Linked DNA regions of Homo sapiens: region 2 is linked to region 1. A link means that fine-mapping ties the variant in region 1 to the expression of a gene that starts in the linked region. Tissue or cell type: whole blood. Region 1 holds a variant in brackets; the other region holds the start of a gene. All regions are shown on one strand. Distances are between the middles of the regions.

Region 1 (4,245 bases):
ACAATACTGTACTTCTGTGTGGTGTTGTCAGAAGGATTTTCATCATCTAGACATTTTCTTTATTCCTCTTCAAACTCTTTTGTCTCATTTATTCACTCGTGCATTTTATTATTTATTCTACAAATATTTATTAAGCATTTTTAATTCTTTAAGTGCTGTTCCGATTGATGGGAATACATAAGGAACCAATACAGTCAAAATGCTTGCCCTTGTGGATTTTATGTCCTAGTGGGGAAGACAAAGAGTAAACAAATAAACATATTATGTCAAGTGATGAGTGGTCAGTATTGTGGATACAAAAAGGCAATATAAAGTGATATGAATGTGAGCAGGAGCTATTTTGGATTGAGTGACCAAAAGTGTTTGTTGAGGGGTGACATGTGGATAGAGACCTGAATGAAATGGTGAGAGAAGGCATCTGAGGGATTTATGAAGAGCATCCATTCAAGGGACCATACATGTGCAATTTCTGAAGCAGAAATGAGCTTGGCATCTTCTAGGACCAGTAAGAAGCCAATGTAGCCACAGCAGAAGAAATAAGTTAGGCAGTAACCAGATTATGTTGGACCTTAAAAACATTTTCGGGACTTTGAATTTTATTTGAAGTATGCTGGAGAACTGCAGGAGAGGACTAGAACCACATTGAAGGCCAGTTAGCATGACTCTCAGGGACTCCTGGATAACAGAGCCTAGATCTACATGACTGCATTCAGGAATCACTTGGATCAGGCTTTATCAGCCTGGGGAAGATGGGGTGTCAACTGAGGGCTGTATTTGCATCTAAACCTATGGTGGCATGCTGTTCTCTCCAGTGATCTTAGATGTTGGATAACCCTGAATGTACCTGGTTCAGCAGAGTTGGGCTCCAACCACAGTCCATACCAAGAGACACACGGAACTCTTCCAGCCTCATACTATACAAACTATAAAAAAAGAATGAACTCATGGTTGCTGGTGTTTGTTTGTTTGTTTGTTTGAGATGGAGTCTCACTCTGTCACCAGGCTGGAGTGCAGTGACACAATCCCGGCTCACTGCAACCTCCGCCTCCCGGGTTCAAACGATTCTCTTGCCTCGGCCTCCCAAGTAGCTGCTACTACAGGCGCGCACCAGCACACCCAGCTAATTTTTGTATTTGTAGTAGAGATGGGGGCAGCAACATGGAACATGCAGGAACTGGAGGCCATTATCTTAAGTGAAACTACACAGAAACAGAAAGTCAAATACCACTTGTTCTCACTTAAGTGGGAACTAAATAATGTGGACACATGGACATAGAGTGTGGAATGATACACATTGGAGACTATAAAGTGGGGAGGGTGGAAGTGAGGTGAGGGACAAGAAAGTACTTAATGGGTACGATGCACATTATTTGGGTGATGGTTACACTGAAAGCCCAGAATTGACCACTATGCAATATATCCATGTAACAAAACTGCACTTTGTACTCCTTAAATGTATACAAATTTTTTTAATGAACCTAAAATGAGATGGTTGAGCTTCCAAATGTTCTGATGTGACACTCACTCACTCAGACATTGCTATCTGTGACCTGTGGCTAGCTAATGAAACTTTTTTTTTTTTACACTTTAAGTTCTAGGGTACATGTGCACAATGTGCAGGTTAGTTACATATGTATACATGTGACATGCTGGTGTGCTGCACCCATTAACTCGTCATTTAGCATTAGGTATATCTCCTAATGCTATCCCTCCCCCCTCCCCCCACCCCACAAGAGTCCCCAGAGTGTGATGTTCCCCTTCCTGTGTCCATGTGTTCTCATTGTTCAATTCCCACCTATGAGTGAGAACATGCGGTGTTTGGTTTTTTGTCCTTGCAATAGTTTGCTGAGAATGATGGTTTCCAATTTCATCCATGTCCCTACAAAGGACATGAACTCATAGCTAATGAAACATTTCGAGATCCAAAAGCTTACAATCACCACTTGTCCAGAAAAATGTTGCTGATACATTTGATGTGTAGTCTACAGGGGCTTTTACTGTCCTTTAGAGAAGTAGATTTCTTTTGATTTACCCAAGTGTATAAATTTCTAATACTGATCTTTCTGTCACTCTGAACCTACTATTGACTTGACCATGTAGAATAGAAACCCAGTGTCTGTGTAGGAACCAGGACGTTGCAGGGTTTGGGGCAGGGACTAACAAGATATAGTTTGCATGCTTCAAAGATCTCTCTGTCTTCTGTATGAGGAATTTATTCTAGGGAGGCAAGAATAGAAGCAGGGAGACAAGTTAGAAGATTATTAGGATGATGGTGCTGGCGATGGTAAGAAATCGGGATGTATATTGAAGGTAGAACCAGCAGAATTTACTCATGCATTGACTATGAAA[G/T]GGAAAAGCGAATCAAATAAAACTTGGAGGTTTCCTCCTGATTACCTGGGAGAATACTGATGGTATTTATTGAGGTATGGAAGGCAGGGCATAACAGGTTGGGGTGAACAGAGCACTCAGGAGTTTTGTTTAAGGCATATTAAATCTGAGATGCTTATTGGACATCTCAATAGCAATGTTGGGTAGGCAGTTAAATATATGTTTGGTGCTCAAAAGGAAGAGATGCCAGTGCTAAAGACATACATCTGGGAGTCTTAGAAGATTGTATTATTGACCCCAGCTATTTGCTCTCTTTCTGGTCATGTGACTTTTTCTTCCAGGGATGACTATACCTTCCTTCCTCATGGAATTTATGAGCATGTTCTGGCCACCCAGATGTAAGTTTCCTATGTCAAACTAGAAGTTTCTGATGTGATTATCTGGTTTACCTCTGTTTCTATTGTTCCTGCTCTCCACACTATAAGAACAATATGTCCAAGATAAGGGTGGCTACATCAGTTCTGGGTCCTGAAATAAAAAGACGCATGGACTTGAACACAGTCAAGCTGAGCTGAGTCACAGATAATCCCTCAGCCCTCATGTAACATGAACAAGAAATCAATAAATGTTTATTGTTGTTAAATACTGATATGTTGGAGTTATTTGCAACCTCAGTAAAGGCCAACTAATAAAAAAATTGGTAACAGAAGTGCTACCATATCTAAAAATATAAAATATGAGGCATTAACTTTAGGGCTAGGTAGCAAGGGAATTCTTCCAGGAGGTTGGACAAGTAAGATTCATGATATGCAGTCGTGAAAAGTTTGGTCAAATTGTGTCTTCTAAACTTGGAAGGCAGATAATGTTCCTAATGGACTTGCTGCATATGGACAAATATAGAAGGATTGAAAAATTGAAAGAGAGCATGATGGTAATATGAATAAGAGGTGAGCTCAGAAAGAATTCACCTATTTCAATGAATGAGATGGAAAATAGGCAGCAAAGAAATTCTGGGCCTTCAAGTTTGGACAATAAAATCCTTCTCACCTCCCACCTATAAAATATAAAATTTAAGTATTCCTTGAAATAGAAAGGCCTTTTAATACTCCATCTCAGGGCAAAGACAGAACCAAAGGTGTCATCATCAGGCCTATGTTAAGATTTCTGGTTGGATTAAGGTGACTTGCAGACATTTTTTTTTCCACCACTGGACAAAACGGCTCAGGGAAAAGAGATCAAGAGTACGTTCCTATGAAAGCATGATATACCCACATACCCATAATCAAGTCTAGAGAAAGTCTTTCTTGAAATGAGTAATGGTTGTGTCTATTGGAACATGGATCCAACCAGTACCAAATAGATTAAAACAATACAACAAAGTGTTTGAGAGAGTTAGGTTGTCAAAAGTGCTGCCAGTCTGTGACTATTTGAAAAGCAAAGTTGGCCCTTAGGCTAATTTGCTTTTAAATGACTTTAGAGATGGGGTCTTTTTCTGTCACACAGGCTGGAGTGCAGTGGTGTGATCACAGCTCACAGCAACCTCAACCTCCTGGGCTCAAGTGATCCTCCTGCCTCAACCTCCCAAAGTGCTGGAATCACAGGTGTCAGCCAGCCCTTAGGCTAAGTTTTTATGGGCAAGAATATGATGTATTCTGAGGGAAGAAAATATATGTGATCAATGTTGGATCATGATAGATTATTATTCCCAATTATTTGTTCCCATAGTCTAATAGGATGATTTATCCTCACTCACTTTCTGTCATGTGAGTTGTCTTCCCTCTTCGGAGAGACAATGTGTCTCCACTTCACATATTTGGATACATGAAATAATTCAGTTAATAAGATGTGAGGACATGTACATATCTGAGAAAAAGCTTTAAATATGATTTCATGGTTTGTGTTGCACTCTCTTGCTCT
Region 2 (4,245 bases), 51 kb after region 1:
TGAAGATAATAATTTTAAAATAACAAGTGTCAGCAAGGATGCAGAGAAATAGGAACTTTCCTATGTTGCTGATAAGCAATGCAAAAGGGTACAACCACTGTGGAAAACAGTTTGGTGGTTCCTTAAAAAATTAAAAATAGGATTATTGTATAACTCAGAAATTCCAAAAGTATATATATTTGGTATATATCCAAAAGAACTGAAAACATATTGTTCATGCAGAAATTTGTACACAAATGCTTATTATTGCTGCATTAGCTACAATAGCCAAAAGATGAAAACAACCCAAATGTCCATTGACAGATGAACAAATAACTTGTGGTATAAACATACAATGGGAATATTATTTTTCCATTAAAAAGAACGAATACTGGCATGTGCTACAGCTTGTATGAATCTCAGAAACATTATTACAAGTGAATGTAGCCAGCCACAACAGGTCATGTATTGTGTGATTCCGTTTATATGAAATATCCAGAGGTGGTGGTTGCAGATTTTGAATGTGCTAAATGTCACTGAATTGAATACTTTAAAATGGTTAATTGTATGTTATGTGAATTTTACCTCAATTTTTTAAATGGGTCATAAACTTATGTTTAGCATAATCCCCTTTTAATTTTAAAAAATGCAGATATTACATGAGAAAAAATGTGCTAGAGCATATTTCAAGACATTAAAGATGGTTATCAGTGAATGATGAGAAATTAGGTAATGTTTATTATTTTCGCTTTGCTAAAATTATTTAAAAATTACTTGCATATTAAATTTTTTAATGCCTAGGAAAGAAAGACTATAGTTGTATTGACTAAGATTTCTACGAGCATGGGGAAAATGCTTAATTTGTAGGGTTAATCAAGGATAAAATAAATTGCATTGTATGTACAATGTGATCCCAAGTATTTAAAACACACTGCTTATGGTAACAGTCAGTCTGTGGGAGACAGGTTAAAAAGTGATATTTTCCCTTCCTACTTTCCAAATTTTCTTAACAAACATATATTATGACTATAATCAGAAAAAATTATTTTTAAAACGTCTACTATGGGGCAAGCTAGGTTCAAAAAATAGAAGTTTGATAAATGTAGTTGGCTTGCTATTGACAAGGAAGACGTTTACACTGGAATTCTATATTTTGAGATATACCATTCCTCATAGAAAAATTTCCTCACAGAAAATATAAAGGTGGAAACAAATCACAAGAATCGAACCATGTAGAGAGACTTAGTTGTCTTTTAACAGAATTGGGCACGGGCTGTTCAGAAACAACAATCTTTCACATCCATTATAATGATAGCATTAGTGTAGTTTGTTTAGCAAATGTTTACTGTGAGCCTGTTATGTGCTGAGCCTGCTATGTAAGAAGTGTGGCTCTCTGGACAGGAGACAGAATACTAAACAACACAACTACTGATCTTTGGCTGCCTGGCATGCTTCCTCACTTCATATGGTATCAGCAATTTAGCACCACAAACGTCCTTTAGAGAACCAGCCCTTTCTCATTCTTGGTTCTAGTGGCTTGAGTAGACTGACCCCAGCCTACCCAAAGTGGATTTGACTCCTAGCAATTCATTAATCTAGCCCAATAAAATGTCAAGTACAGGACTTTTATTGAAAGCATTCAGAAAAGAGGTGGACTCTCACACTAAACATTTGTAACTAAATAAGGGATGTTAGAAATTCTCTAGAAAGGAAGCTATGATAATAAATGGGTTGCTAGATGGGTCTAGTAGATGGTGGCCATGCTTTGTTACTGCCTTGTGTATTGTGCTACCATAGCCCTCCCCAAACTGTACTCTGGCTCCTGGCATTTCCGTCTCTTCAACCAGATGGTCAGCTCTCTAAGTGAAGGAGACACATCTCCAACATGCTTGGTTCTAGCACAACAGAAGGGCTCAAACACATACCTGCTAAAGAAACTATCCTGATGGATTTAGCAGCATGGCCATGAGGCATTGGCGGTTCTATCACTGGGAACTCAGGTTTCTGGTGCTCCAGTACCTCTACTGGCTGATACCACATCCTACAATTCACTTCATAGGCTTGGGTTCCTGCTCTGGGCTGAATAGGTGGTCCACTCTGAGTCATCAGCTGTGGGTGATGATGTGGTCACTGCATGATTCTCACACAAGCACCCAGAGGACGTCATCAGGCAGAGGCAGTGGGGGTGGGCAGCATTTACAGAAAATCTGTGATGAGACACCACAAAACCAGAGGGGAACATGAAGTCACTGAGCCTGCTCCACCTCTTTCCTCTCCCAAGAGCTAAAAGAGAGCAAGGAGGAAACAACAGCAGCTCCAACCAGGGCAGCCTTCCTGAGAAGATGCAACCAATCCTGCTTCTGCTGGCCTTCCTCCTGCTGCCCAGGGCAGATGCAGGTGAGTGACCGTCTCCACCCTCGGGGGCCCAACCCCATCCCACAGGTCTCCTGCCCTTTCTCCACATTCCTGATCCATCTATCTACCAGGAATGTTCTGAACTCCAGCTCCCATTCTACCAAGACCCCCCAAGTGTGATGCTGGATAAGCTATCAGCAGGAATGGCAGAGCAGCAGGCCATTCTCAAGAAGAGCCAGTGGGTACTATCCCTTCCCCAGAGCCCACCTTTGTCACCTGGAGAGTAGGACTTTCCTAGAAGTAAATGGCAGAGGATGGGAAACTAGAAAAGAGAAATATTAAATTATTCTAGAGTAGGCCTGGCTTCTGTTTCTGGGATAAGACAGGTGCTTCTCTCACTGTCTACTTAGGAGAGAAACCCAGAGCTCAGCTGACAGCAGAATTGGTACAATCACTGTCCTCAGAACACTGTTAATGTGTTTGCTCAGTCCCATTCTCCAACTCTGCTTTTCTTCCCTGGCCTTTGGTGGCTCCCCTCTTTCCAAGGATGAGGCACTACGGCAGGCCCCAGCTTCCCTGCTTTCTAGAATTCCACCAGCACTGCTCTACCAGCCCTCATCCAGAGGCTAACTGGAGCCAGTCCATCATGCAGCCATGAACATTTACTGGGCACCCACTACATGTCAGGCTCTAGGAAACAGGATATGACAGTATCTAGATCCCTCCACTTACACCCTGGCCATTAGAAAGCAGCACTATCCTAGACACCACAGGACTCATAAGGGTCTTGGAAACTCACCTGAAACAAAGCAAAGTCAGGAGAGGAATGATCAGGAGCCTCTGGGATTTCACTGTCCCTAAGACAGGTATGCTCGCCTTCAACTACATATGGAAGAAAGATTTACAGACCAAAGTCTGCTGTTCTTCCCTTTTTCAGAGCAGGAAATTGAAGCCCCTTCCTCCAGGCCACTCCCAACTCCAGGCTATCCCAGGCTCCCAAATGCCCAGGAGTTCTGGAGCCACTAAGCAGGTGCCCACCCAGCAGATTCCATGGGTGCCCACAAGCAGACAGACTTTTCCTTCAGGGGAGATCATCGGGGGACATGAGGCCAAGCCCCACTCCCGCCCCTACATGGCTTATCTTATGATCTGGGATCAGAAGTCTCTGAAGAGGTGCGGTGGCTTCCTGATACGAGACGACTTCGTGCTGACAGCTGCTCACTGTTGGGGAAGGTGAGGAGCAGAAAACAGCCCACACCCTCCTGGAAACACTCCACAGAGACCCCTGCCTTCTTCCCAAGGAGCTCCCTGGGCTCCTGTGAACACACATGCCAGGAGGTCTCCTTAGAGGGTGAGAAAAGGGCAGTTAAGTTTGTGGAGAGAGGGGAAGGTTGGTTCCAGAGGTGCTGCTGAAGTAAGAAACAGCAGAGTGACCAAGCCTGCCATATTTAGAACTGGGGGCATACTTTGGCATAGAATACAAACTGAAGCAATTCCACCTGTGTTTCTAGGGGGAACCGAACCCTGAGAAACCTGGTGCAATTACCAGAATTCCAATTCCTGGGGACCGACTGTCCCCTTAATTTCCCCTCAGCTGCAGCCCTGCCCCAGCTGTCACCTGCTCTTCACTGTCTCTGGGCTGTATACCCTGTGACTCCACCCCCATCCTCACTCTGCTCTCTGTGCAGCTCCATAAATGTCACCTTGGGGGCCCACAATATCAAAGAACAGGAGCCGACCCAGCAGTTTATCCCTGTGAAAAGACCCATCCCCCATCCAGCCTATAATCCTAAGAACTTCTCCAACGACATCATGCTACTGCAGGTGAGGCACACTCCTGCCACTCTTGCTCTTCTTGGTCCAGTTGGTTCCACTCCCCCTGGAATGCCGGCCCTTCCCTCCTTTCCATCC

What was found. PIP is the estimated chance that this variant, and not a neighbour inherited with it, causes the effect.
Region 2: GZMB starts here. The variant in region 1 is the best candidate, but not a certain one, in a credible set for the expression of GZMB in whole blood (TOPMed, PIP 0.51).

What each region holds. Positions count from the first base shown.
Region 1 is chr14:24,683,547-24,687,791 of GRCh38, reverse strand. No RefSeq gene overlaps it. Among named protein-coding and RNA genes, the nearest start is that of GZMB, 51 kb to the right of the region's middle. The variant G/T (reference allele first, on the strand shown) is at 2,350.
Region 2 is chr14:24,632,237-24,636,481 of GRCh38, reverse strand. GZMB (granzyme B) reads left to right here and starts at 2,292. Exons shown (of 5, transcript NM_004131.6): 1 at 2,292-2,376; 2 at 3,420-3,567; 3 at 4,023-4,158. The coding sequence starts at 2,322. GZMH-AS1 (GZMH and GMZB antisense RNA 1) reads right to left here and starts at 3,380. Exons shown (of 3, transcript XR_007064087.1): 1 at 3,134-3,380; 2 at 1-2,186. RefSeq lists an enhancer at 1,714-2,913.